2 separate regions of the Homo sapiens genome follow, and region 2 is linked to region 1. A link means that fine-mapping ties the variant in region 1 to the expression of a gene that starts in the linked region. Tissue or cell type: whole blood. Region 1 holds a variant in brackets; the other region holds the start of a gene. All regions are shown on one strand. Distances are between the middles of the regions. Region 1 overlaps CCR1 (C-C motif chemokine receptor 1). Region 2 holds the start of CCR3 (C-C motif chemokine receptor 3).

Region 1 (2,500 bases):
TCACTTGCACAGCCAGGTCCAAATGTCTGCTCTGCTCACACTCATGGGTGAACAGGAAGTCTTGGAAAACAGAAATAAGTATAGTCAAATTGTAGGGGGTCCAAAAGAGAAAAAAGATGATCATGATGACAAAAATCAAACGGACAGCTTTGGATTTCTTCTCATTTGGTCGTCTTAGCAGAATCTTTATAATCCCTGTGTAGCAGATGATCATGACCAACAAAGGCAATACCAGCCCAAAGAGGTTCAGTTTCAGAGCCTGAAACAGCTTCCACTCTCGTAGGCTTTCGTGAGGAAAGTGAAGGCTGCAGGTGTGGTGAGTGAATTCCCATTGGGTCTTGGAAAAGTATAAGCCTGGCATGGAAGCCAAGATGGCCAGGGCCCAAATGATGATGCTGGTGATGACACCAAAAGTGACGGTCCGTGCCCGCAAGGCAAACACGGCGTGGACGATGGCCAGGTACCTGTCAATCGTCAGCAGGATGATGAAAAAGATCTCGCTGTACAAGCCTGTGTAATAAAACCCAGAGAGGATCTTACACATGGCATCACCAAAAACCCAGTCATCCTTCAACTTGTAGTCGATCCAGAAGGGAAGCGTGAACAGGAAGAGCAGGTCAGAAATGGCCAGGTTCAGGAGGTAGATGCTGGTCATGTTTTTTAGCCTCTTGTATTGCACAAGGACCAGGACCACCAGGATGTTTCCAACCAGGCCAATGACAAATACCAAGGAGTACAGAGGGGGCAGCAGTTGGGCCCCAAAGGCCCTCTCGTTCACCTTCTGGCACGGAGTTGCATCCCCATAGTCAAACTCTGTGGTCGTGTCATAGTCCTCTGTGGTGTTTGGAGTTTCCATCCCGGCTTCTCCTACAGGTTAAAAAAAAAAAAAAGATTTGTCTTTACTCTGCTACTAAAGGCAGTGGGCACTGGACAGTAAAGACAAGGGAGAGGTAACATTTTTTCAGCCACTCCATAAATGTTTATTGAGTGCCTTCTGTGTACCATGCCCTGGGGACAAAATGGAGTGTTAGAGAGACCCAGATCCTCTCTGCCTTCTAGGAATCTTAGTCTAACAGGGAGTGGAAGCAATAAGTAAATGAGTGCACAAATCATTAATTCAATCATTTCAGCAAAGAGTTTTGTAAGGGATAAGTTCAATGGGTGGAAAGCCAGAGGGAGACCTTACCATACTATTCATAACCAACACTTCCTAAGCACCCCCATGGCCTAGGCACTGGACTTAGGGTTAAAGAGCCCTGGAGGGGTCCCATTGTTGTT[C/T]TTATTTAAGAGGTGATGAAACAGAGGTTCAGAGTGGTTAGGAAACATGTTCAAGGACACACCTCTTGTGAGAACAGACCTGGAGCTCCAACCCAGCTGTGCATCATTCTCATGCCCGGCCCTGACACCACTACGCTTTCCTGCTGCTGTCCCCGAGCAGTAGCTTTGCACTGTGGAGCCCACAGGAGGACTCTGAGAAGGAAAATGGTCCTGGCTCAGAGAAAGATACAAACAGATATTCATGGCTTTTGGTCTAAGAAGATTCTCAGCCGAGAGTGACCTAGTACCCTTGGGGCACTTGGAAATGTGTGGGCATTTGTTGTTGTTGTCACCAAAACTGGGGGATGCTACCGTCATTTGGTAGGCAGGGCCAAGGATGTCCTACAGTGCAGAGATCATTCTACCCCAAACACCAGTGGTGTTGCCATAGTGAAATCCTAGTAGGTCAACCCCATTATTTTGGAGATGAGGACACTGAGGGCACCAGAGTGGGCTGAGCCTGACCCACATTGCACAGTCCTTAGGTGGCACAGGTAGATCTAAGGTCACTTTGCAGACCTCCTGAAGGAGAGGAAAGTGCAGGCAGAGAAGGGGGAGGTAACCTGGTCAGAAAAAGAGAAAACTGGGCATCAGGGGAGGAAGAGTTCAGAATGGTCTGGAGCTATGAGGTGATGTTACACAGTGACTAGCTGAATTCTGCTGAGATAAGCTCTTAGATATTTTTACCCACGGATGCCTTAAAGCAAACAAAAATGAAACAAAAAAGAATCACTCTGTAGGTTGCCTTTGTAGGACTTCTCCCAGTCCCTGCTTTTTTGGCACTTGAATCCTTTCCAGTTGCTTATTAAAGATGCCTCCCCAAATGGAGCATTGGCTTTGGTGTAACCTACGAGCTTTGTGACTTTGGATAAATTATTTTACCTCTCTGAGCTTCATTCCTCATCTGTAATGTGGGAAAGCAACTCTTATCTTGCAAGGCTACTGTGAGGTAATGTATGAGAAAAGTGCTACCATCACCCTCCCACCACCACCACCTGGCAACAGCCAGGCCCCTTATTGAGGGCCTGGCAAGAGCCAGGCCAGGGCACTTTTCTTGGGGACCTTCCCTGAGAGAACTCCTTCACTGCAGGAGCCCTTCCCTGAGGCCTGACACCACCAGCACATCCCAGGCACCAATGTCCAGGATGTCCCTGGCTGGCTGGTATACCCTGTCTCCCACCCC
Region 2 (2,500 bases), 37 kb after region 1:
GTTTTAGCCAATTTGAATATGCTATATTGAATATGCTGTAGATTAAATAGTGAAATGTTTCTTTGGTTATGCTTTAACTATATTTGAGCATTCTTGATATTTTATCAGGTCTCTGTTGTCTCTGATCACCAACAAGGTTATAGACTCTTTAAGGTGGAAACTGAGCCCCTTCCTCCCTTTCTTCTCTTTCTCTCAAATTCTCTCCCTATTCTTTCTCTCTCTCTCTAATGCACATGTGTGTGCGCTCTCTCTCTCTCTCTGTCTCTCTTATCCTCCTTCCTCTTTCTTTGTCTTTTGTTCCTATGTTTTCTTTATCATGAAGCATACAGCACAGTCCTACACACATATCAAACGTTTGATAAACACTTTGGTGCATTACACTCATTTGTCGAGTTAGTCAGTGTATCAAAGATCACTTCATGCTTAGTCAGAGTTCTTCCCACAAATATTGGGTGAATACCTGCTCTGTGCCCAGTGCCATGCTAGGTCCCAAGGGACACATCAGCACATACAGCAGGCACATGGCTCTGCCCTGTGACGCTTTGCCCTGAGACATGGCTCTGCCCTATGACGCTTATGTCACAGTGGCATTCTACCCACACTTTACATTTCCTTAGCCCTGTATATTCTGCAGAGACTTTTCACATATTTATCTTAGTTGGTTCCACGGCAATGCTATGACTTAAATATCATTATTTCCAGTTTAGAGATGAAAAAGCTGAGGTCCAGCAAGTTTAAATTACTACCCCCAGCTTATGTAGCTGTGTATGCCACAACTGAAACTCAAACTCAAGTCTTTTAGACTTGTCTAAACCTTTGCAGCCACATTTTGCCCCATCCAAGTGTCTACTGGACCCTGCAGAATAATTAGTTTATTCCTTTGCCGGGAAATTCTTATTTCATTCTTCATCCTGTCTCCCGATGAGTCAAATCAATGCTTATTCAAGAATTATAAATCCCAGGTCTTTAGGAGGCCGAGACTCGCAGATCACTTGAGGTCAGAAGTTTGAGACCAGCCTGGCCAACATGGTGAAACCCTGTCTCTACTAAAAATACAAAAATTAGCCAGGCATGGTGGCATGTGCCTCTAATACCAACTATTCCAGAGGCTGAGGCAGGAAAATCCCTTGAACCCAGGAGGTGGAGGTTGCAGTGAACTGAGATCATGCCACTGTACTCCAGCCTGGGTGACAGAATGAAATCCTGTCTTAAAAAAAAAAAAAAAATTATAACAACCCCCCACCACTAAAAATGAGCAATGCCAATGGGTGGAGAGCCCCTAAAGCAGCACTAATTGCAAGGATTTCTCAGGTGACTGGTTAGTATGTGGTGTCAATCATGAAAAAGAAGAACTGCACGAAAGTATCTTTCTGAAAACTTGCAAAACTGAGAAGCTAGTCTGTTTAAAACAGGAAGTTATATACTTACATTGTTTACTACTTTACTAATGTCTGTGATCTGATGGTATCTCTGTTTCAGGAGTGGTGACGCCTAAGCTATCACTGGACATATCAAGGACTTCACTAAATTAGCAGGTACCACTGGTCTTCTTGTGCTTATCCGGGCAAGAACTTATCGAAATACAATAGAAGTTTTTACTTAGAAGAGATTTTCAGGTAGGTGTCGCTTTTCCAGGAAAAGGGAGGTGGAACAAGGAGGGGTCCAGGCAGGTGGAAGTAGTAACTTCCAGCAGTGCTCTTGGATCTAGGAGGGAGGAGAGGAAGGTACACAGCAATTTAGAGGTAGTATGGGGCCAGAGTGGGAGAAAATATGGCCACATATCTCCATTTTCTTCTTGCTTTTTCTAATTTTCCCTTTCTGTCTCCCATCCACACAATGATAAGTTTGCGTGTAGCACTCACCCAAACTTGGCCCTTTATACCTCTTTAGTCAACATCTGTGCCCATGTTACCCTCCTATACTTTCACAAATTCTCAACTATGTGCATATGACTACTCCAAAGAGCTTACACTTAATAGCTTGTGTTTATTTATATTGACTTGTAAGAAATAGCAAAAATATAATTTTACATATATATGTGTATATATATATATATACACATATATATATATATATATATACGCACACACACATACATTTTTATATATACAAAGTCCTCCCTCAGTATCTGTGAGGGATTTGTTCCAGGACCCTTGCAGATACCAAAATTCATAGATGCTCAAGTTCCTTATATAAAATGATGTAGTATTTGCTGATAACCTACAAATATCCTCCAGTACCCTTTAAATACAAGTACCTAGATTACTTGTAATACCTAATACAACGCATACAGAGCGCTTCATTCATGTGGAGTCAACATAGCACTTGCTGCGTGGCAAATTCAAGGCTTGGTTTTTGCAACTTTGTGGAGCTTTTTCCCAGATATTTTTGATCCGTGATTGGTTGAATACACAAATGTGGAACCCATGGATACAGAGGGCTGATTATATACATATGTGTGTGTGCATTAAGTATGTATGTGTGGAAATATATATATTTA

The links.
Region 2: it holds the start of CCR3, and the variant in region 1 is fine-mapped to the expression of CCR3 in whole blood (TOPMed, PIP above 0.99).

The regions. Positions count from the first base shown.
Region 1 is chr3:46,203,458-46,205,957 of GRCh38, forward strand. CCR1 (C-C motif chemokine receptor 1) reads right to left here. Exons shown (of 2, transcript NM_001295.3): 2 at 1-867. The coding sequence starts at 856. Among named protein-coding and RNA genes, the nearest start is that of CCR1, 3.6 kb to the right of the region's middle. The variant C/T (reference allele first, on the strand shown) is at 1,279.
Region 2 is chr3:46,240,923-46,243,422 of GRCh38, forward strand. It overlaps CCR3 (C-C motif chemokine receptor 3), which reads left to right and starts at 1,538. Exons shown (of 2, transcript NM_178329.3): 1 at 1,538-1,616.